Linked DNA regions of Homo sapiens. The protein of the gene in region 4 purifies or fractionates together with the protein of the main gene of each other region. This does not show direct contact. Each region holds a gene or a part of one and is shown on either strand. Other genes may lie near its edges.

Region 1 (3,500 bases), on a different chromosome or scaffold from region 4:
CTTCTAGCTTGCATTTTAGTATAAATTTTCTAAGTTTCTGTCCTGCCAATACCTACCTCAGGGTTCTTGAGGGTCATCTCAATGCTGGCTGCAGGCCCAAATCCCGTGAGGGATTTAATGTGGATCTGTGTAGGCAGTGGTCGCCTGCACTGGCAGTACACTGAAAATGCCATGGACTTCAAGTATTGAATGTAGAAAACTTGCTCATCCTTCATTGTCTGCAGCATGTACTGGCAAGGCACAATCTAAAGACACAAATACAAAAAAAAAACAAAAACCAAAAACCTAGAAACTGAGATCTAACACACTAACAAGCAAGCTGAAAAAGGAAACGGCATGAATTCCTTACCACAATGGGGAGAGGTAACCTCAGCCTTAAAATATATCTGTGCCACACATAATATAATTAAATCCTAATTCCTTCCGCTGACATAAAATTCTCTATCACCAGCAATTTCAAAAGATGTACGATTATGTTGGTCAAGTTATACTGTCACTTAGAAACTACCATGTTCCCACTTTAGGGGTAAGATCTCAATTTATTACAGGTATTACCATGGCCCCAAAATTTTATTATATTTCTTTTTATAATTACACAGTGTGTATGGCATTTTTTGGAATTATTACCTAATCATTTAGGATACAGACTTCAAAACAATGGAAAACTATCAGCAATGTACTCTGATAACTTTAATTTCAATCTTTTAATTTTACAAGATAGCTTCAGTTAAAGTGACATTAAAACGAAACCCAAACATCCGAAGCATTGTTTTTCATCTATATAGAATTTTTTAAAAAATCATTACACTATAAAGCTGTCAAAGGTGCAGTGAAAATAAGCATACTCATTCACTGATGAAAGGAAATAAGTGTAACCTCTTTTGGAATGGAATTTGGCAATATTTGTCAGCATCTAAGAATCCATGTTAAAAATGACCTGAAATGTGAAAAATAAGATTATACATAAACGTGTCCTATGGCTTTATTTATAACAGTAAAGAAGTGGAGATATAGGAATGACTATGGAAAATATGCAGTCATTAAAAATGTTGCTTGTAAGAATTTAAATAATATGAAAATGTGTTAATGAATAACATTAGGTAGAAAATAAGTTATATTAAAAGTATGATCTCAACTGTGTAAACAAAAATAGAGAAACAAGCTAGAAATACACCAAAATGGTTATGGTGGTTGAATGTAAAAGACGGAATTATGACTATTTTTCTTTTATACTTTCATGTACAGGTTGAATATCCCTAATCAAAAAATCTGAAATCCAAAATGCACCAAAACCCAAAACTTTTGGAATGCCAATAAAACGCCACAAGTGGAAAATTCCGTTATCAGACCTCATGTGATGTATTGCAGTCAAAATTTAATCAAAACTTTGTATAAAGCACAACATGACCAAAAATATTGTATAAAATTACCTTCAGGTTATGTGTGTAAGGTGTATATGAAACATAAATAAATTTTATGTTTAGACTTGGGCCCACTGCAAAGGTCTCCCATTATATATATGCAAATATTCCAAAATCGGAAATCCAAAACACTCTGGTTCCTAGTATTTTGGTTAGGGGATAATTAACCTGTACTTCCATTTTTTAAGAAAAATCATAGGCCTGTATTTATTTTCATAACAACAAAAATAACAACATCAAAAGTAAATAATAAACTTGCAAACAGTAACCTGGAGAATGAAAGAATTTCTCATATGCTCAGGTAAATTATCCAGCATTTCTGTGTAGCAGCGCATCAAGCTCAACAGCCAAAAGTTCCCAGAAGTGGAGTCCTCCTCTGCAGCATACGTGAACGGGTCCACCATGTAAATGACAACAGCTGGAGGGTGGGCATGGCTGTCTGCAGAGTCAGGCTCCGTGGGAATTCCTATTCTCTCCCTTTCTGTAACACTGGAGAGAGAGTCACTTGTGAGATGCACAAAATAAATATAAATTACACGAACATGAAAAACAAAAGGGCTCAATTCTAGAGCACACAGGCTCCCTAAAGAATGTTTACAGATTAAAGGTAAGAGTAACATTTATCACCTTACCAAAATACAGGCAAACCAAGCCAGAGAGCATCGAGGGCAGATGGAAAATGGCAATGTACTCCTCTAAAATGGGAGGTATCTTTTTCAACTCCCCTTTCTTTTCTGTGGTTATGTTGTACAAAGTTGTTACTAATTAAGTTGATAGTAAGTAAGTTTAATAATAAAGTTTATAATTCATAATAATTTATAAGAAGTCTCAAATTTTTAACACTGCAGCTTTAGATCGACCATTGCCCCTTTCTTTTGAGAAGAGAAATAGAGCACTTCATAGGATTCACAGAATCATGAGGTCAAGGGAGAAAAGGTGCAGAAGAAGAAGAGAGAAAGGGTCTGAGCTGAAGCCACTCATCTCAATTAGTGAATAACATACCTCTCTTGTCCATCCTGTGAGGGCTGAGAAGAGCTCTGCCCAGGGTCAGTGTCTCCACCACAGCCTATGTTCCCTTGCGTTCTATCCGCAGAAATGCCCCCAGTGCTGGGGTTCTGCCCTCCAACACTACCACTGAATCCTGAAGAAGAGGTAGTGCTTATCTGGCTAATACCAGGAGCAGAGGCAGACGATGAGACCGGTGGCACAGAGGAACCAGATGCAGAACTACTTGCTGCAGGATTTGTAGAACTACTATTCGAGGTGGGATTAAATGCACTGCCAGCTGGGGGAGCTGCTGATCCATTTGGAGCTAAGGGCCCAGCATTCCCTGGCGTAGCTTGTCCCTGTGCTGCTGCTGGTGGGGTCTGGTATTTAGGTGGTATCAATAGGCTGCTATCAAGCTGCAGAGTGGCTAAATAAGGTGCTGAAAGAATACATGCAAAGAGGTGACTTTAGTGATATTCTGCAGTGTCGGACTGAACCAGAATCTAGAATGGTCACTTGTAAAAACATTATGCTTTCAGGCTGCAATACTCTGATTACAATACCCAAAATACTATCTCCACAGTCATGCTTATGTATTCTGCAAACATGGAGATGCACATGGAGCAACTTATAAATTCTACAGTAGAGGCTTGTTTGAAAAGAGAAAATCAATCACTTGTGATAGTCTCCTTTCAGACTGATTCCATGTGCCTGCCCTAAAAAATGAGAAGCTATATATTCCACAGTCATCATGGGACATTATGCTCCTAGGTTTACAAGCTTCTAAGATTCTCTTCAGAATATGGGTTAAAACTAAGCAGCTAATACCAAGTCATGCTGCTAAGTTTTCAAAATGTGCAGTAATTAGACATGATTAGGCAACTTTGAATAGTTTTTAAAAAATATATGTCCATATAGAAATTAGCATTAAACTGCCCAGAACACCAAACTGGACCTTAACAAATACAGCATTACTTGAGACAAAAGAAATATAATGTTGCATCTATAAAAGAAGGGATGGGACGGATTTGCTATTTTACTTCTCCAATTCTACTTTGCCAAATAAATTCCCATTTACCTAGGTGATGGCGG
Region 2 (3,401 bases), on a different chromosome or scaffold from region 4:
ATCTCTTCTAAGGACAATTATTTGTTTGAATTTATGCTGAGTCCTGAGGAAGCTGTCACAACTACACCAAAGTGTACTTCCAAATTGGATAGAAATTATTTGTGATTTCATATGAGTAAAGGAAGGCTCTCTTTTTCTCTCAGTTCTAGGAAGAGTTCATATCATCACCTAAGTAACCCTAATCTGATCACTTCTTTCTACCTTTCTGGTGTTTGATATCTTTATCCCAAATCTCTAAAGCCCCAACCTTCTTGCCCATTAGCCACAACTCTCAGAAATGGACCTCATAGGGCAGGGGACACAGCCTCTTTGTTCTGATGATAAAAGCAGGTGTTTACCCAGCACTGGTTGGTGCTGTTGGCATAGACTCTGAAAGCTCTCAAGCTGTCTGGGCTCACGTCCCAGGTCTCTCCCCAGCCCCCCACCCCCACCTGGTGTGTTGCCTGAACTGGAGCCACTCAACTCCCTGTGCCTCTATTTCCTCACCTCTGAAATGGCAATGCCAAGAGCACTGTTTTAGGGGGCTATTCTGAGCATTATATATGCTCATAGATGGGCCTGGCACAAAGTAAGTGCTCAGTAAATGTCAGCTACTATTATTTCCTTTTTTTGTTTTTTGTTTTTTGTTTTTAGACAACGTTTCACTCTTGTCACCCAGGCTGTAGTGCAATGGTAGGATTTTGGCTCACTGTAACCTCTGCCTCCTGGGTTCAAGCAATTCTCCTGCCTCAGCCTCCTGAGTAGCTGGGACCACAGACGTGTGCCACCATGCCAGGCTATTTTTGTATTATTAGTAGAGACAGGGTTTCACCATGTTGGCCGGGCTGGTCTCGAACTCCTGACCTTAGGTGATCTGCCTGCCTCAGCCTCCCAAAGTGCTGGGATTACAAGAGTGAGCCACCAAGCCCTGCCTTCTATTATTTTCTAATACCCTGTGTTCATCTCCTCATCCTCCTTCCTCTTAATTATCCACTTTGCCATTTCTATTCCTGTCCATCAATGCTTCCCCCAGTGTCTTTTCTGATCACCTGTGCCCCCTCCTCTCCTATTGCTGACACACAGCCTGGGCCATTTTCCTTACCAAGACCTCCCCCACCCCACATCCTTGAAACATCTGCCTATCTCTTTCTTGCCTCCTTTTGAAAATCTTCAGATCCCATGTAGCACCTTGGGCATTTTTGTACTTAGTAGCCCATCTTTTGACACCCACTCTATGATAATTTAACACCAGCAGTTCACCAGACCTGAGGTTGGCTGCCTTGGGGCTGGCAGTGTGGTTTAGGAGAAAGAGCACTGGGCCGGGGGCACAGGGACCATCTCTGCACGGGCTCTGCCACCAGCTCCTCTGACCATAGCGCAGGTGGCCCTTCCTGGGTCTGCATCGTATGGTAAGGAGGAACTTTAGGGCTCCAAGGAACTCTAACAGCCCACAGTTTTGAATCCAGCACTTCCTGAGCCCCCAGCATGGGCTACGGTGTGTGCTGGGTGCTTTTCTCTGTTGATTCCACAAATTTCAATTGAGCCAATATTGGCTGTACCCTGTGCTAGGTGATGGAGCTGCAAGGGAGATCAGGACAGACTGTGACATCCTTCATAGAACAGACATAGTTAAATATTACAGACTTGTTTGGAGGTAGGTCTCAGTGCTCCAATGTTTGCAGATTTCAACCAGATATTTTGGGAACGTTTCACTGTCAACAGCTAGGACTGGCAGAACCACCAGGTGAGCCCAGGTCTGAGTGACTTTGAGAGTGGCTCACTCTCCAGGCAACCTCCCTGGACAGGGGTGAGTCTGATGCCTTCTCACGGGGGTATCAGCCTCCGATGGGTGGGGTGTGGAGGTGAGAGGTCATAGGTGCCTGGATAGGAAGTGACTCTGCCATCACTTCCTGTGTGACCTGAGGCCTGGGATGAGGATGGGGCAATTGATGGGGAAGCGGGGAGCACCTGTGCTGTGGGGTGGGTGGGATGTGGACATGTCTGTGTTTCTGCTGTGTCTCCTGTTCTTCCCCTGGGATTGGGACTATTTCCATCCTGCTGATCCCTTGCCACTCACACTGGGGGGGCTGCCTCTTGGGTTAGACCTTCCACCCCTGTGGTCTGTTATTCACTGACCGTTACTGTCGTTGTAATACTCCACGATGTCTTTCAGGGTCTCCATAAAGATGTCCTCCCTGGCCTTCTGAAGTTGGCTGTCCTGCTTCCAATCCTCCATTCCTTCCACCTGTCTCCAGAGTCCCATGGGCTGAGACTTCCTGTCTTTACTGTTGTATCTAAAGAACTGGAGGTCATTGAGTGAGCCAAGGGCCTGAAACGCGGGGACGTCTTCAACATGCTTGGACAGCCCAGTGTAGATATAGGTCAGAGAGTAACGACCTGCAAAAGAAAAGATTCTGATGGTTGAGGTCCATGCAAGGGTCCCACTGTGGGGCTGCATAGGGCTAGGAGGGGAGACCTGCCACTGGCCTTTTCTTCCCCAGCTCTTTCTCCTGCCATCAACTTCACACCACTGGAGGCTCACTCAAGTGAATATGCTCTACTTTCATGCCTGAGATGATATTTCAGAGACCATCCTGTGTCTTCACTACATTATTTCCTCTGCTTGACACATAGGAAGATAACATTACTCAGCCACCTCGAAGATATATTGGGACCATGTGACTGAGTTTTGTCAAAAGAGAATGTGAGCAGAAGTGATGTCTTTCTTCTTGTCCAAGACCCTACCAGCTGGCTTGTCCCTTTTGTTTCTCATCCCTAGAGGTGACGACTTTGAAGGCCACAGGATAATATGAAAGAGTCTCAATATGCAATTGGCCTGGATCCCTGAGTCACCCCATGGAGGAATGGAACCTTGCCCAGTGTGCATGGAATCTGACATGCGTTAGAAATTAACATTTCTAGGCTGGGCTCCGTGGCTCATGCCTGTAATCCCAGGACTTTGGGAGGCCAAGGCAGGCAGATTACTTGAGATCAGGAGTTGAAGACCAGCCTGGCCAACATGGTGAAACCCCATCTCTATTAAAAAATACAAAAATTAGCTGGGCATGGTGGTGCGGGCCTGTAATCCCAGTCATGCTGGAGGCTGAGGCAGGAAAATCACTTGAACCAGAGAGGCAGAGGTTGCAACAAGCCAAGATCATGCCACTGCACTCCAGCTTGGATGACAGAGTGAGACTCCGTCTCAAAAAAAACAAATTAACATTTCGTCCGGGCTCAGTGGCTCACGCCTGTAATCCCAGCACTTTAGGGGGCCGAGGCGGGTGGATCACGAGGTCAGGAGATCGAGACCATCCTGGCTAACATGGTGAAACCCCGTCTCTACTAAGAATTCAAAAAATTAGCCAAGCATGGTGGCGGGTGCCTGTAGTCCCAGCTACTCAGGAGGCTGAGGCAGGAGAATG
Region 3 (3,500 bases), on a different chromosome or scaffold from region 4:
AGCTGGACCCCACCCTTCTTCAGATGAAGACTGAAGTAATGGAGGGCACAGTGGCTCCAGAAGCAGAGGCTGCTGTGGACGATACCCAGATTATAACTTTACAGGTTGTAAATATGGAGGAACAGCCCATAAACATAGGAGAACTTCAGCTTGTTCAAGTACCTGTTCCTGTGACTGTACCTGTTGCTACCACTTCAGTAGAAGAACTTCAGGGGGCTTATGAAAATGAAGTGTCTAAAGAGGGCCTTGCGGAAAGTGAACCCATGATATGCCACACCCTACCTTTGCCTGAAGGGTTTCAGGTGGTTAAAGTGGGGGCCAATGGAGAGGTGGAGACACTAGAACAAGGGGAACTTCCACCCCAGGAAGATCCTAGTTGGCAAAAAGACCCAGACTATCAGCCACCAGCCAAAAAAACAAAGAAAACCAAAAAGAGCAAACTGCGTTATACAGAGGAGGGCAAAGATGTAGATGTGTCTGTCTACGATTTTGAGGAAGAACAGCAGGAGGGTCTGCTATCAGAGGTTAATGCAGAGAAAGTGGTTGGTAATATGAAGCCTCCAAAGCCAACAAAAATTAAAAAGAAAGGTAAAACGAGTTTATCCATAGTGGTTTCATAAAACCATTTTGGGATAAGCATACAACACAGTGCATATGCAAGTTGTTTTATATTAACCGTATTTGTAAAAGGTCGTTATGTGGGTACCGTTCTTTAAAACCAGTCTAAAATAAGTTTTTTCCAGATTGAATGCTCTTTTTTTAATCCCAAAGAAGAAGGAAATGTATTAGTGACATGAGATAATTATGACTTATATTGGGTTTTGTTATTAAAAGCTAATCAAATATATTTGTAGAAATTTAAGATTAGGATTAATCTTAACACTTTGAAACTCTGCAGCAAGTAAGTGTTTTATTTTGCACATAGGTGTAAAGAAGACATTCCAGTGTGAGCTTTGCAGTTACACGTGTCCACGGCGTTCAAATTTGGATCGTCACATGAAAAGCCACACTGATGAGAGACCACACAAGTGCCATCTCTGTGGCAGGGCATTCAGAACAGTCACCCTCCTGAGGAATCACCTTAACACACACACAGGTGCTGGATAAGAATGTTGGGGGCTACAACAGCAAATGCTCAGACTTCGCTTTTTAGTATTCATTCAAGCTGACTCCAGCGGGAATTTAAAGGAAGTTTTTATTATTTCTTATGATGCCCTTTTTGTAATCATGATTTTATTGTAAGCACTTGGACTTAGTTATTATAGACAAATGTAAAGAAAATTTAATGAAAAATAACACCCTCTCTCTTAAAAAAAAGAAGTCTCAGGCAATAGATGCCTGGTACTATGAGGAAGAATGTTAGAAATAGAAGTGAAATCCCAGTGAAACCCTGTCTCTACTAAAAATACAAAAAATTAGCTGGGTGTGGTGGTGGGCGCCTGTAGTCCCAGCTACTCGGGAGGCTGAGGCAGGAGAATGGCGTGAACCCGGGAGGTGGAGCTTGCAGTTAGCCGAGATCCCACCACTGCACTCCAGCCTGGGCGACAGTGCGAGTCTCCGTCTAAAAAAAAAGAAAAGAAAAGAAATAGAAGTGAAATCCTACCTTTATTTAAAAAAAAAAAAGTGGCCGGGTACAGTGGCTCACGCCTGTAATCCTAACACTCTGGGAGGCTGAGGTGGGCAGATCACTTGAGATTAGAAGTTGGAGACCAGCCTGGCCAACGTGACAAAATCACATCCATCTGTACTAGAAATACATAAATTAGCCAGGTGTGGTGGCGGGTGCCTGTAATCCCAGCTACTCAGGAGGCTCAGGCAGGAGAATCGCTTGAAACCTGGGAGGCAGACACTGCAATGAGCTGAGATAGTGCTACTGCACTCCAGCCTGGGCGACAGAGTGAGACTCCATCTCAAAAACAAACCTTAACATTTTTTGTTTCTGGTTGTTTCACGTCAAGGAAGATAATTCATAATTTCAGAATGGAAAAGCTAAGGCACCATTCTGATAATTCAAACATTTATTTGAGCATCCTACTTACTTTAGTGTTCAGATATTCTGATATTAGCTTCATGTTGGCTGTGGCCAGGTTCCCTGAGGTCTCTAAAGTAGAGGGACTCTGTGCACTAAACCTCTCTTTAAGCTTTCCTGAGCTATTTGTTATCCCAGTGTAGGAAGTTGGTTGCAAGTCTTCTCACATGGTTTTTCATGCAGAATAACTTCATTTCATATGACAACTCTTGTTTTTGATTTTTAGGTTTTTAAAAATTTCTAATGACAACCCTTGTTTTAGATTTGTTGTGCTGGTTGTCAGATGACCATGATCAAGTGGGTGTTAATCATAAACAGTATGCTGCACATGGGCACATTCTTCACTAATGTGACTTACTTTTAAACATCTCCCTAATTTCTACTCAGACACTTGATAATATGTTTTATTTGATACTTTGAAGACACTAGGATGGGGCATATGACTAAATAAAAGTAACTGGGTAATCCCAGCACTTTGGAAATCCAATGGGGGGTAGATGACCTGAGGCCAGGAGTTCTAGACCAGCCCGGCCAACATGGCAAAACCGCCTCTGTACTGAAAATACAAAAAATCAGCTGGGTGTAGTGGCACACGCCTGTAAACCCAGCTACTTGGGTGGCTGAGGCAGGAGAATCACTTGAATGCGGGAGACAGAGGTTGCAGTAAGCCAAGATTGTGCCACCGTACTCCAACCTAAGTGACAGAGCAAGACTCTGCCTCACCAAAATAAATAAATAAATAAATAAATGGCCCCATAACAGGACTTCCCAAGATGGGTGTGCCTTGGTGTGGGCATTCTCTATCTGGTCTTCAGCTTTGAAAGTAAGAGGTACAGTCTATCTGGTTACTCAGCAGATTTGGCAAGACTGATTCATACCAACAAAACCCATAAGAGCAGATGCATACACCAAGAGTATCAGTTTATGGTGAGGAGTATACCTTTTCATGTTCCAGATGCAGTTGCATTGCATTCTAGGGGGCGCCTTTGCCTCTGTTACGATGCTGTAGCAGCCGGGCGCCGTAGCTCTCGCCTGTAATCCCATCACTTTGGGAGGCCGAGGTGGGTGGATCACCTGAGGTCAGGAGTTCAAGACCAGCCTGGCTAACATGACGAAACCTCGTCTCTACTAAAAATATAAAAATTAGCCGGGCGTGGTGACGCATGCCTGTAGTCCCAGCTACTCGGAAGGCTGAGGCAGGAGAATTGCTTAAATCCAGGAAGCAGAAATTGCAGTGAGTGGAGATCGCACCATTGCACTCCAGCCTGGGCGACAGAGTGAGACTCCATCTCAAAAAAAAAAAAAAAAAAAAAAGATGTTGTAGCAATTGAAAGCTAACTTGGTGAGGATGAGCCTTGATGGCTGGGCATGGTGGCTCACACCTGTAATCCCTGCACCTAGGGAGGCTGAGGCGGGTGGATCACTTGAGGTCAGGGGTTTGAGACCAGTCTGGCCAACATGATGAAACCTC
Region 4 (3,500 bases):
CTCCCAAAGTGCCGGGATTACAAGTGTGAGCCACCACGCCTGGCCCCATTTCTTTGAACAGATATTAGATATTGCTAAGGAAAATAGGCATATTTTTGAGAAATAAATATTTTCTCTTAGGCCAGCTCTTTTAGAATTGCTAGACTAGTAATCTGTCTTCTGTGCTTTTACTAGCTATTTTATAGAGATGCTTAGAAAATACCAGTATTTAAATACATTTTAGGACAAATTTTGGTTTTATGGGTTTATGGTAAAAAATTAAGTATCTTTAACACTTAGTAAATGAAGTAGACATCTGTTTATGTTTAACTGGTTTGTCATTTTTGTAATGCAAGCCTTCAAAAACTTTTTGAGGCCTAAGGGAAATTAATGTGTTCTTTTTCAATGAAATTTGATAATCTAGAGCAGTGATCAGCAAACTTTTTCTGGCAGATACTAAATATTTTAGGCCTTTTGGGCTTTACTGTCTCTGGTGCAATTACTCAACTCTATTGTAGTGCCAAAGCATCGACAGATAATACGTAAACCAGTATGGATAAGGATGGCTGTGTTCCAGTAGACCTTTATTTATACAAATAAGCAGTTGGCTGAATTTAGTCTGCAGGCTATAGTTTGTTGACTCCTGGTGTAGAGCAGTGATGTCCAATAGAACTTTCTGCAGTGATCTGAAAATGTTTAGCATCTGTGCTGTCCAATATGCTAGCCACAAGCCACACGCCACACATAGGTATCGATTACTGGAATGTAGTTAGTGTGATTAGAAACTAATTAGTAGCTATCACATTGGACTGTGTAGGTTTAGAGTCTTTGGATGAGTGGCTTAGCAACAAATAATTCTCTGATCCATCAAGTGACCTTTCAATAAAAATGTTTAAATCAGGGTGTGGATAAATAGGAAAACTGTTATGTCTTTTTTCAAGTTACAGGAGAAATATTAAGGCTGAAATAGCTTGATAAAGCAAACCAATACTTGAAGAACTATCAATTTATGAATGGAATCAAGGATATTTAACTACTTTTTCAAAAAAGTATTTTATGGCCGGATGAGGTGGGAGGATTGCTTGAGCCCAGGAGTTTGAGGCTATAGTGAGCTATGATGATGCCATTGCACTTCAGCATGGGCAGCAGAACGAGACTCTCTTAAAAAAAAAAAAAGGTATTATAAAAAAAAGTTTGTAAATAGTATATGTGCGTAAAAATATACAATGTGGCTGGGCGCGGTGGCTTATGCCTATAATCCCAGCTCTTTGGGGAGGCCGAGGTGGGCAGATCACTTGAGGCAAGGAGATCAAGGCCAGCCTTGCCAACAGCGAAAACTCCGTCTCTACTAAAAATACAAAAAATTAGCCGGGCGTGGTAGTACACACCTGTAATCCCAGCTACTCGGGAGGCTAAGGCACAATAATTGCTTGAACCTGGGAGGTGGAAGCTGCAGTGAGCTAATATTGCACCACTGCACTCCAGCCTGGGTGACAGAGTGAGACTCTGTTTCAATAAAACAAAAATAACAAAAAACCACCAGTGTAACGTAAGTCATCCCTTTCCCAGCCATTCTTTCCCTTTTTTAGGGGCAGTCATTCTTGGTTGTCCTTTAAGAGGATTTTCTTTTGGGGTATGTGCATGTGTGTTAACTTAAAGATGTCATTAAATATGACATGCTAGTGTGCTGCACACTTTTCTATTTTTAGATCATGGCTCACTGCAGCTTTGGCTGCCTGGGCTCAAGCAAGTCTGTCTCTTGGGCTCAAGCGATTGTTTCACCTCAGCCTCCTGAGTAACTGGGACTACAGATGTGGGCCATGCCCAGCTTTTTTTTTTTTTTTTAAATTATTTGTAGAGATGAGGTCTTGCTATGTCTCTCAGTCTGGTCTTGAACTCCTGGCCTCAAGTAATCCTCCTACCTTGACCTCCCAAAGTGCTGGGGTTACAGGCATAAGCCATCATGCTTGGCCCTATTTTTATTTTTATTTTTATTTATTTAATTTATTTATTGAGACGGAGTCTTTCTCTGTCACCCAGGCTGGAGTGCAGTGGGAAGATCTTGGCTCACTGCAACCACCACCTCCCAGGTTCAAGCAATTTTCCTGCCTCAGCCTCCTGAGTAGCGGGGACCACAGGCATATACCACTATACCTGGCTAATTTTTTGTATTTTTAGTAGAGACAGTGTTCACCATGTTGGCCAGGCTGGTCTCGAACTCCTGACCTCAAGTGATCCATCTGCCTCAGCCTCCCAAAGTGCTGGGATTACAGGCGTGAGCCACAGTGCTTGGCCCATATTTTAAATCTTAAACATTGCTTAAACATTATGACATATCTATATACAGAGATGCCTTGTTTCTCTTAATAGTTTTGTTGTATCTCATTGTATTGACTTACATCATTGGCTGTCTCCAGTCTTGCTAGTACTAACACTGAAGTGAATATCCTAGTAAGCACAGCATTTTGTACCTATTAATGTGTCTGTAAGTTAAAGTCCTAGAAGCTGTTTACCTTTGGAAGTAATGGCTTGGAATGGTTTACTAATATGGTGATGTATAAGATAGAAATATCTGAAGACTGGAGATGGGGGGGTTGGCTAAGAATAAGGAAGTGAAATGTTAAGACAATAATAATTTTTTTTTTTTTTTGAGATGGAGTTTCGCTCTTCTTGCCCAGGCTGTTGTGTGATGGCACGATCTTGGCTCACCGCAACCTCTGCCTCCCGGGTTTAAGCGATTCTCCTGCCTCAGCCTCCCAAGTAGCTGGGATTACAGGAATGCGCCACCATGCCTAGCTAATTTTGTATTTTTTAGTAGAAACGGGGTTTCATCATGTTGGCCGGGCTGGTCTCAAACTCTTGACCTCAGGTGATCTGCCCACCTCGGCCTCCCAAAGTGCTGGGATTACAAGCGTCAGCCACTGCACCCAGCTGACAGTGATAATTAACACATAAAAATGAGCTATAAATCATTTGTTAAAGGAAGTACAAGTTACTTACTTTTTTTTTTTTTTTTTGAGAAGTGTTATCCAGGCTGGGGTGCAGTGGCACGATCTTGGCTCACTGTACCTCTGCCTCCTGGGCTTAAGCTACTTTCTCATGGCTACTGTTTTAGGAGCATGGAAAAGGCATGTCTCTGAGTTTTACATAGGAAGAGTAGATCCATGGAAAGGTTTTTAATGCAATCTATGTCAGTGTTGATGAATTAAGTATTTTTATTTTTTAAAGTATATAAAATATAGTGTCCTACATTTTTGAACTTAATATGCTAGACAAATAAGTTCATATGTGGTGTTATAAATTGTGTACAGTTGACTGTTGAACAGCAGGAGTTTGAACTGTGTGGGTCCACTTACACGCAGATTTGTGAAACCTGCGTATATGAGGGCCAACTTTTTGTATAGGTGGGTTCTCCAGGGCCAACTGCAGGACCTGAGTATATGTGGGTTTTGGTATATGCAGGGGTCCCAGAACCAACCCTTTAGGTATACTGAGGGACATCTATTTGTTTTGAAAAATTA
Region 5 (3,500 bases), on a different chromosome or scaffold from region 4:
CTGAGAGTCCCTCCTCTTCAGGACTCCAGAGTAGCCAGTGACAGAAAATAAATCCCAGAACCAGGGGGCCCTGAAAGCAGCTGTCAGTCCACTCTCCCCCACAAAGGGAACTTCTGTTTCAAGATTGGGGTCAACATCTAGTGTATTTGTCCTCACAACTGATGTTGATTGCCACCTTCACCCATGTGTAAATGGAAGCATTCTTACAGGGCCCCAGGCCCCTTAGCGCCTGACCAATCAGAGTCAGCCTGGAACCAGGGAAGCAAGGGGAAGAGACAGGTGAAGCACTGCATGATGGGAAGGCTGGAAAGATACAGAATCTTCCCGTGGCCCAGGAAGCAGTGGGAAGCCACCTTCCTCCACCACGTGGACTGAGGAGGGCAGGCCAGTCTCCAGAGAAGGGAAAATCAAGACAGTGCACAGAGCAGAGGGAAATGAGGCATGTGGGCCCTGAGTCCTGATGCCTTTTTGGGTGCAGTCTACCCAGACCCAGGTACTCCCGCCTTTGGGTTCCATGAGGCAATCTCTGGAATCCTTACAGTAAATCCCTGACTTCACTGAAGCCAGCTTCAGCTGCCTGAAGTGTCCAACTATTCTGGGAGAGGGTCCCTTATCAACTCAGACTCAAAACCTACAGACTAGACTGTCTCTTTAACCCCAGCCCTGCTTGACTGTGTCAGGTGGGAGACCAAAATGACTTCAGTGACTGCTCTCATCCGGGTAGTTCTGTGCAAACAAACCTGGGTGTTCCCTCGAGCAAGTGCAATTCTCTTAAAATCCTGGAGACTCCCCAAGATGTGGTGGGGCAGGATCTGGTCACTGCCATCGAAGCTGTCACCGGGACCTGGGAGGATAAAAGAAGAAAGGGGAAAGAAGCTGTGGGTGGACAACTTTCAAGAGGGCAACTTTCTGATGGAGACTGGGTTTCTCTTGAGGCTGACCCATGAGTTGAAAGACAGTGAAGCCAGGGCTGAGACTGGGTGTACCGGAGTAGTCCAGAGGCTTTGTGGCTTCATCAGGATTCGCAGGACGTGCTACAAGGTGGCAGACCTTCCTCCTAGGATCCATGGGTTTGAGTTTACGGATGATAAATTTCTGGGTGATGACACGTTTATCTTCCTTTTCAGTAAGGCGAGGAATGTGTTGCTAAAAAGAAATAAAACAAAGGAGAATTCCACCTGTGGTGGCAGGAGGAAGAGCACCACCCATCTCTTCTGTTCTAGTTCTGGGTGGAGTTCCTGAAGGCTGACAGATCTGTTTCTTCAGCTCTGTCCATATGTTCTGTCAAGGAAATGCCTGTGTAACAGATATGTGACTTAGTAATATCCTGGAGGGAAAAAAAAGAACATCTTATGCCTCCAGACAGTTTGGGTGAGAGATGGCTGACTCTCCCAGGTAAAGCATGGGGTTAGGGTTTAGCAGCTTTACCCAGAGCTGTACCTTGGCTCCTTAAACTCATCCTCCGGTCTGTGAAATGGGAATGATGGCACCTACCTCTATGGGAAGCAAGATACCTCATCATCTCATTTCCCCTGTGGTTCTATATGAATCTCAGAAATGTTAAAACAGACAACACAGTGAATTCCTTAAGGTGGTAAAGTGAAAAGAATCTGTGTTCAGTGGGTTTTTCCATGGAGTTAGACACTCCCCATGAGTAGGGACATGGCTGGTGTTCTAGACCACTCAGGCTGCCGGCAGGGAAACGTTTCTATGGTAAGGGAAGCTTGGGCTTCATCCTCACCTCCTTCAAGTCTTCCTTCTTAATGGCCAAGGCAAGAATGTCATCTCCTTGTAGGACATTGCTAACAGGTTCAGGCTCTTCCTGAATTGTGGGTGTGGGTTGTTCAGGTCCCTTTGCCCGCTTCTTTTCTGAAGAGAAGCAGAAAGTTATTAAGTCCTTAAAGAGCTCCTTCTGTATATATCAATATATACATACAAAAATAAAAGTAAAAATATATACTAGACTCCATGGTGGGGGGCAGAGCTGACCAGCTGGATAGATAGCAGAGGCTGCCAAGGTGGCCTGGGTAGCACTTTGCTGGGGCAATGGGAGTTCTCTCTGGAGGGTCCCCCTACCCACAGCCCCTGGCTCACCACAGTGACTAAGACTTCTGTAGCCAGAATTGAGATCAGAAGATGTTTCGTTTCAGGCCAGGTGTGGTGGCTCATGCCTGTAATCCCAGCACTTTAGGAGGCTGACACAGGAGGATCACTTGAGGCCAGGAGTTCAAGACCAACCTGGCCAACATGGTGAAACCCCGTCCCTACTAAAAATACAAAAATTAGCCAGGTGTGGTGGCCCATGCCTGCAGTCCCAGCTACTCGGGCGGCTGAGGCAGGAGAATCACTTGAGCCCGGGAGGTAGAGGTTGCAGTGAGCTGAGATCGTGTGACTGCACTCTAACCTGGGCAACAGAGTGAGACTCTGTCTCAAAAACAAAACAAAACAAAACAAAAAGATGTTTCATTCCGGGTGCCGTGGTGCAAGCTTGTAATCCCAACACTTTGAGAAGCCAAGGCAGGAGGATTGCTTGGGCCCAGGAGTTCAAGACTAGCCTGGGCAACATAGTTGAGACTCCATCTGTACAAAAAAGATTATTTTTAATATACAAAAAAGATGTTCCATTTCAGGCTATGCTATTTATAAGCTGGACAGTCTTGGGTACGCATCACTTAACCTCTCTAGGCCTCAGGCTTTCCATGTGTAGAAAGAGTCAGTTGGACTAAATCAGTGGTTCCCAAGTTATTAGTCCAATGTCTGCCTCAGAATCTTTGGGGGAGTTTTATGAATACAGCTTCCTGACTACTGCATGGAGCCAGGGCCTAGGGAGCTGTACTTTTTTCAACTCCCTAGGTGATTCTGATGCACAGTGGTTTGGGACAACTGAACTAGATGTTTTGCCAGCCTCCTCCAGTGCTGGCACTGATCCATGCTTCTGGGTGAAGGCACAGGGTTTCACAAGACACTGGTTAAAGTGCAGAATCTCTGTGGGGGAAGCAGAGCATTCACCACTGGCCATTTATTGCATATTCATTTAATAAAGATTGTTTAAGCAGCTTCTACATGCCAGGCACTGTGCTAGGTTCTAGGGATACATGCCAGAGCTTGTCTTTAAAGAGCACATGCCCAATGGGAAACAAGACCGTGAAACAGACTGAGCCAGAGTAACTACAGGAACATGGTGGGGGGGAACAACCAGCCCTGAGTCGGCGGGCGTGGGAGGTGGGGGAGTCAGGGAGGGCTTCCTAAGGAAGGGATGTTTAAATAGAGCTGAAGAAGCTGGAGAAAGGAAAGGGCCCTGGGGAACAGGCATTCCAAAGAAAATAACATAAAGAGGCATAGTGGCAAAGAATGGAGCACATCCCTGGAACTCAAAGCATGTGTTTTTGAATAGCTGGAGTGTGGTGAGGTGGGAGGGAAGAGGCAGAGCCCAGAGACAGCAGCAGCCGCCATATCGTGAAGAGCTCAGTGAGCCATGTGAAGGCTTACCCCATGGGCAA
Region 6 (2,981 bases), on a different chromosome or scaffold from region 4:
CTCAGGTGATCCGCCCACCTTGGCTCTCAAAGTGCTGGGATTACAGACGTGAGCCACCGTGCCCGGCCTATGGTTGTTTCAAGAATCAGATTCTGGCAGGGCATGGTGGCTCATGCCTGTAATCCCAGCACTTTGGGAGGCCGAGATGGGCGGATCACTTGAGGCCAGGAGTTCGAGACCAGCCTGGCCAACATGGCGAAACCCCGTCTCTACTAAAAATATAAAAAATTAACCAGCTGTGATGGCATGTGCCTGTGGTCCCAGCTACTCTGGAGGCTGAAGTGGGAGAATCACTTGAACCCGGGAGGCAGCGGTTGCAGTCAGCTGAGATCGTGCCACTGCACTCCAGCCTGGGCAATGAAGCAAAACTCTGTCTCAAAAAAATAATAGTAACAATTAGATTCTGCGCACAGTCCATAAAACTATGCCAAGTGGAATTTGGGTTTCCAGAGCCATTCTATCCTTACTGTTTTAGTCCATATAACCTTATGTATTATTTGTGTTTTTTGTTTTTGAGATGGTCTTACTCTGTCACCCAGCCTGGAGTTCTGTGGCACAGTCATAGCTCATAATAGCCTCAAACTTCTGGGCTCAAGCAACCCACCCACCTCAGCCTCCCAAACAGCTTGAACTACAGGTGTGAGTAACCATGCCCAGCTATTTTTTTCTTTTTTGTAGAGAGTGGGACTAACTATGTTGCCCAGGCTTGTCCAGAACTCCTGGCCTCAAGCAATCCTCCTGACTTGGCCTCCCAAAGCAGTGGGATTACAGGCATGAGCCACCACACCCAGCCCTTACATATTCTTAAAACAAAATACTAATAACAACAAACAAAAGTCCTGGATCCCTCAAACCAAGTTAGGACCTAAAGATAAGAAGACACAAGACCAACGAAAGGCCTGTAATCAGCTCAGTATTAACCATCCAGTAGGCAGGACAGGAACTCTCAATATAGGAAACTCTTTTCTGGTGCTGTATCCTTTATCCACTATTACTGGCTACACGCTTAAAGCAAGAAACTCCTGGGCAAACAATGTGAGGATAAGCAGATGCTCTGTTGCCACGGGCCACCTCAGCCACCTCTCACCTCTGTGGTCAATGTCATCAGTATCGCTGTCTGCTTCCTCATCCTCTTCATCCAAGGTTCCTCGAGTCAGGATCAAATCAGAAGGGTGCAGCACAGGAGATAAGCTGTCTACAGTGAAAACACCTATCAGTGATATGCCTCCTCAAAAAGGTGATCTTGAATCACTAAGTAACTATGATCATAAACTGGCAGGATGAAAGTGCTCATGATACATATAAACGCAGGATCTTACCTCTTCTAAATGTATTGTTAATACCACTTAACATTTCTATAATAGCTTAGTTCACAAAGTGCTTTCATAAGGCAAATAGCCCTAGGAGTCCCATTTTTTTAAGCTGAGGGAAATAATTTTCAAGAAGCTTGTCTTACTAGTAGCATCATTCTTTTTTACTGGCTCACAGCTTGGAAGGGGTGATGGTTTTTCCTATGAAAGCTAACAACATTTGAGCAGATCCAGTGTGCTGGTGAGTCACAGTGAAAGTGTGGAGTGCTAAGGAAGCCTCCTGGTGGAAATGTAAGTTCAGAGAAGGTCTGCAGAAAATACAGGGTGAAATGTTATCAAGGAGCCAGGGTATTATTTAAGAAGAGGAGGGAGGGGAAAAATAGAAAATCAAATACACTAATAGAAGTAAAATTCCCTATTCAGAAAAACTAGTGAGGGCTGAGCTCCAGTAATCAGAGAGAAGTCTAATCAAGTCACTACTGCCATGGGAGGACATAGTCACTCTCTCTTCAGGAGCCTATGAGGCTTGCGAGAGCTCAGCTAGGGAATAAGGGTGGCCAGAGACAGCAACATCAACTGGCACAAATCTCAAGGGGCCTGTGGGCCTGAAAAAGGAGGATGACAGGACATGCTGACAGTAAATGCTTCATTCTGTGCCTAACAATTATGCAACTATACTTGTGACTTTCCTCAAATGATTTACTTAAACTCTCCCAACCTTCAACAGGTTAGCTGACTACAGCAGACCCTTTGCAGCAGTAGTTTTAACATTGACTTCACATATTCAGAAGTGATTCTAAAGGACTGTGGCACATAGAAATGTATTTTGCTGAGCTGTACAACAGGATGGCACAAGTGAGTACACTTAACTGGTAAACCCAGTCCGTTACTAGCTTTGCTGTTCTCTACTAGATATAGAGCAATAACTTTCATGAACAGAAGCATCACTCCTTTAAGAAAGATGTCCCAGAAAAAAAAAATGCTAGTGTTGCTGATGAGAAGAAAAAATAAATGTACAATTTATTACAATAAATAAATAAATGGAGCTTTTCTTTTAAGTACAGTCAATTTGGTTGCAGGATTCCACTAAGCTGCAATAGACTTGCATCTGAATCTTGAGGGCAGTCCCTCAATATACAGGGGTGGGGGTGGAAGGTGGGCTGTAAATGAAAACTAACCTAAAAACCCCTGCAGAGCCAATGATAAAACTAAAAAAAAATTTTTAATTCAGTAAAGTAGCAGGATAAAAGATGAATATACAGAAATCAAAAGCCTTCATACATACAAACATAAACCAGTTATAAGATGTAACGGTCCAGAAAATCCCATTTTCAACAGTAATGAAGAAGGTTAAATACTTAGAATAAATTTCAAGCTGGGGCTGGGCATGGTGGCTCATGCCTGTAATCCCAGCACTTTGGGAGGCTGAAATGGGCAGATCACCTGAGGTCAGGAGTTCAAGACCAGCCTGGCCAACATGGCAAAACCCTGTCTCTACTAAAAATGCAAAAATTAGCTGGGCGTGGTGGCATGTGCCTGTAGTCCCAGCTACACAGGAGGCTGAGGCACAACAATCGCTTGAACCCGGGAGGCGGAGGTTGCAGTGAGCCGAGATCGCGCCATTGCACTCCAGCCTAGGTGACAGAGCAAGACTCTGCCTCAAAAATAAAT
Region 7 (3,500 bases), on a different chromosome or scaffold from region 4:
ACCACATATTGGGAGAAGGGTGGGCATCTTGGTCCTGGAGACCCCAGGGGGCCATGTGGGGCCCGGGCAGGAGGGGGTCGGAGTGCTGGTTTGGGGACTGTCAACACTCACTCCTCGCTGCTGCTGCTCCAGCTTCTGCTGCTGGACCTGCTTGTGGTTGGTGATGACCTGCCGGATGCCGTTGACGAAGCCGCTCTGGTCGTAGGGGATGAGGCCCATGAAGATCTTCTTCTTGGACGAGTACAGGAGCATGAGCACGCGCACCTCACAGGGCGCCGTGTGGGGGAAGTGCACGCAGCCCGCCTGGGTGGACAACAGCTCTTCAGAACCATTCAGGCCCTGAAAGAGGCAGCCCTGACCCCCTCCCCATTCCAGAAGGCTCTAGAGGCCCCACAGGCAAGGTGAGGTGAGGTTTCTGCTATAGAAGGTTAAGGAGAACAGGTGTGCTATGGGTTGCTCTGGAGACAGAAACTGAGGCGCTCAGGGCAAGCTAGGGTTCCAGCTGCCCACTGAGAGGGAAAGCGGAGAGAAAGTGCTGGAGCCCAGCTCTTCAACCTTCAGCCACCACCTGCTCCTCATGGACCCAGTTTCTTGGGCATAAAATGCCACGGCGGCCTCCTCAGAGGGCGGCTGAGGGTCACGGCCGGGAGAGCGGCCTAGATGCACAGCGTGGTACCCACAGGCCTGTGATCAACGGTGGGTCGGACCCCGGGTATCCAAGAGATCCTCCAGCCCTCAGCACCGGCCAGTGTACACCACGGGGAGTGCTCCCACATCACAGGGTCGCTGTGACTATGCGATGTCTGATCCACAGCAAGAGCCCTGCCTGAGGCTCAGCCCACAGGAAGCACCCAGGAAACATCACTGGTCATCAGGGGGGTAACACATGGAGCATTCAGGGCAGGGGCTCCTGAGGGAGGCGAGGCTGACCTTGGCCAAGTGAATTGACTTCTCTGAGCCTCGGTTTCCTGCCTGAGACAGACCCTGCTAGCTGCCTATTCCATATCCAAGTGTCCTCCTCCCCTGCATTCCCAATGCTGTCTGGGGCTGTAACATGTCCCAGCCCCAGACAGTCACGGATACCTGCTCCCAGCAGCCTCCCATCAACTAGGGGCTGCCCAGTGGCCTAGGTCCGGGATAGGAGGTGAAAGGAATGCCTGCTCTGGAATCTGAGAAAGTTTCTGCTGTCTTGAAGAAAGGGAAACACACAGCCCCCTTCCCCTCCTTCATGAAAGCACACAGGATGCGTGGAGCCATGAGAGCTACCTTGTGACTATAAAGGAGAGGCCAAGAGAACCACAGGGCCCTGTCCCTGATGTCACAGACCTATGAAACCAATCCCAATAGCTGGCCCCCTCTAGATGTCCTGTCCTGTGCAAAATATAAATGCCTGCTCCTACAACGCCTGCCCTCTCAGAACCCAGCTGCCACAGTGTGGCCACGTGGACAGGCCATGTGCAGACACTGGGATGGCCGGTCCTAGCCAAGCCCCAGCCAACAGCCAGGGCTGTGTGAGGAGCTGTTTTGAACATCCAGCCCAGTAAAGGTTTCAGATGACCAGAGTCTCAGCTGCCATCTGATGGCAACCCCGTGAGAGTCGCCAAGCGAGATGGCCCACTGAGCCCAGGTGACCCACAGAATCATAAGAGAACATTTTTTCCGAGTGCCCCCAATTATCTATGTGTTTGGGAAACTACGTGATTTGCAGCCGGAAGTACTAACTCTCAGGAATGCCTTCTTCACAAGGTTCTGTGAGGGTCTCGTGAGGTGATCCCCCTAAGGTTCTCTTTCCTGCAGGAGTGCCTGGTGCACGGAAGTAACTGATCTGCTCCTTCCCCGAGTTACAAAGTGTGAACTGTGACTCCCAGAAAGCTATGCTGAGGCTGGGCGCGGTGGCTCACACCGGTAATCCTAGCACTTTGGGAGGCCGAGGCAGGCAGATCACTTGAGGTCAGAAGTTCGAGACCAACCTGGCCAACATGGTGAAACCCTGTCTCTACTAAAAAATACAGAAATTAGCTGGGCATAGTGGCACATGCCTGTAATCCCAGCTACTTGGGAGGCTGAGGCAGGAGAATCGCTTGAACCCAGGAGACGGAAGTTGCTGTGAGCCAAGATTGCACCACTGCACTCCAGCCTGGCTGACAACAGTGAAACTCTGTCTCAAAAAACAAAACCAGAAAGCTAAGCTGAGGTTCCAGTCCCCAGCACCTGTGAAGGTGACTCTATCTGGAAAGAGGGTCTTTGCAATTGTAGTAAGATGAGGTCAGGAAAATGGGGCCTAATCCAAAATTACTGATGTCCTTATAAGCACAGACACAAAGATACAGAGAGAATGCCATGTGGAGACACACACAGAGGGAAGACAGCTGCGGGATGGAGGAAGACCCTGGAGCGATGCCACCTGAAGCCTGGGGTTACCGGCCGGAAGAGGCAACGAAGAGGCCTTCCCTCCAGCCTCTAGAGAGAGCGTGGCCCTGCTGACACCCTGACCTTGGGCTTCTGGCCTCCAGAACTGGGATAGAACACGTTTCTGTTGTTTTAAGCCCCTCTGCTTGTGGTAATGTGTTACCACAGCCACAGGAAATGAACACATCCCATAAAGCCATGCCAGAATCAACAGCTTCCTCCTAACTGATCCTGTCACATCCAGCTCACATTTTTAATGTGGAATATCCCTCAAATCTGGTGCATACGATGATTATAATAAAAGTCACGGCTCTAGAAGAAAGGCGAGGAACCTAAGGGCATGAAGTGCACCCAACCATCAAAAACGGCTTCCGTGGGCCCAGGCACTCTGGGATTCCCGTCAAAGGTCAGCAGAAAGCAGGACAAGAGTCAACACCCCTCGGCCCCCCATGCCCTGGACTCACGAAGCCGTTGCCCATGATGCGGTAGAGGCCTTTGAGAGACTCCAGGTCCTTGTTGGTGAAATGGAACTGGACCATCCTTGAGTTCCGGAACAAAGGGCCCAGGGTGGTCTGCGGGAGACACAGAAGTCGGCTGGCATGCTGGTGTGGGCAAGTGAGGCGGGGACATGAGGCAGGGAGTGGGGGTGGGGCAGGGAACAGGAAAGAGACAGCAGGGTGAGGACTGCCCGGCAGCAGGGCTGGCCCTCCACCGCCACTCACCAGCAGCTGCTGGGGGATGAGCTGCATGATCAGCTTCTGGGGCCACTGCTCCGTCTTCCTGGGGGCGATGCCAGGAGAGGTGTGAGGAGGGGGCCAGCCCCAGCCCCACCACACCCCGCCCCTGACTGTCACCTACAGGTTCTCGCCATGATTCACGTAGACCTGGCAGGGCAGTGACCGCGTCAGCTTGGTGTTGGCATCCACTGAGGCAGGTTTGGGTTTCTGAGGGGGAAAAAAGAGCATGTCAGTAAAAAGGGCCATAAGCCTCAGTCCCCTTGAGCCCTCATGTCCTACCCTGGTAGCCCCAAAGCTCAGGATGTTCCCCAGTTTAAGTCCCATGAGCCCCAGGCCCCTCCTCCAGACCAGCAA

What was found.
Region 1: the proteins of CDK19 (region 4) and MED13L purify together in Homo sapiens (affinity purification with mass spectrometry; 7 studies listed by BioGRID and IntAct, with this or other methods). This does not show direct contact.
Region 2: the proteins of CDK19 (region 4) and AZGP1 purify together in Homo sapiens (affinity purification with mass spectrometry; one large-scale study listed by BioGRID and IntAct). This does not show direct contact.
Region 3: the proteins of CDK19 (region 4) and CTCF fractionate together in Homo sapiens (co-fractionation; one large-scale study listed by BioGRID). This does not show direct contact.
Region 5: the proteins of CDK19 (region 4) and MYCBPAP purify together in Homo sapiens (affinity purification with mass spectrometry; one large-scale study listed by BioGRID and IntAct). This does not show direct contact.
Region 6: the proteins of CDK19 (region 4) and GPN1 fractionate together in Homo sapiens (co-fractionation; one large-scale study listed by BioGRID). This does not show direct contact.
Region 7: the proteins of CDK19 (region 4) and MED25 purify together in Homo sapiens (affinity purification with mass spectrometry; 2 studies listed by BioGRID and IntAct, with this or other methods). This does not show direct contact.

What each region holds. Positions count from the first base shown.
Region 1 is NC_000012.12:115,980,694-115,984,193, forward strand, and holds part of MED13L (mediator of RNA polymerase II transcription subunit 13-like), read right to left. Parts: coding exon 3,487-3,500; intron 2,848-3,486; coding exon 2,424-2,847; intron 1,911-2,423; coding exon 1,691-1,910; intron 246-1,690; coding exon 57-245; intron 1-56. UniProt on the Homo sapiens protein: Component of the Mediator complex, a coactivator involved in the regulated transcription of nearly all RNA polymerase II-dependent genes.
Region 2 is NC_000007.14:99,969,631-99,973,031, forward strand, and holds part of AZGP1 (zinc-alpha-2-glycoprotein precursor), read right to left. Parts: intron 2,377-3,401; coding exon 2,116-2,376; intron 1-2,115. UniProt on the Homo sapiens protein: Stimulates lipid degradation in adipocytes and causes the extensive fat losses associated with some advanced cancers. May bind polyunsaturated fatty acids.
Region 3 is NC_000016.10:67,611,026-67,614,525, forward strand, and holds part of CTCF (transcriptional repressor CTCF), read left to right. Parts: coding exon 1-588; intron 589-925; coding exon 926-1,096; intron 1,097-3,500.
Region 4 is NC_000006.12:110,805,470-110,808,969, reverse strand, and holds part of CDK19 (cyclin-dependent kinase 19), read left to right. Parts: intron 1-3,500.
Region 5 is NC_000017.11:50,514,939-50,518,438, reverse strand, and holds part of MYCBPAP (MYCBP-associated protein), read right to left. Parts: intron 1,870-3,500; coding exon 1,742-1,869; intron 1,147-1,741; coding exon 987-1,146; coding exon of another isoform or gene 942-986; intron 845-941; coding exon 741-844; intron 1-740. UniProt on the Homo sapiens protein: May play a role in spermatogenesis. May be involved in synaptic processes.
Region 6 is NC_000002.12:27,646,050-27,649,030, reverse strand, and holds part of GPN1 (GPN-loop GTPase 1), read right to left. Parts: intron 2,166-2,981; exon of another isoform or gene 2,038-2,165; intron 1,196-2,037; coding exon 1,088-1,195; intron 1-1,087. UniProt on the Homo sapiens protein: Small GTPase required for proper nuclear import of RNA polymerase II (RNAPII). May act at an RNAP assembly step prior to nuclear import.
Region 7 is NC_000019.10:49,831,789-49,835,288, reverse strand, and holds part of MED25 (mediator of RNA polymerase II transcription subunit 25), read right to left. Parts: intron 3,354-3,500; coding exon 3,268-3,353; exon of another isoform or gene 3,190-3,267; coding exon 3,132-3,189; intron 2,982-3,131; coding exon 2,874-2,981; intron 304-2,873; coding exon 112-303; intron 1-111. UniProt on the Homo sapiens protein: Component of the Mediator complex, a coactivator involved in the regulated transcription of nearly all RNA polymerase II-dependent genes.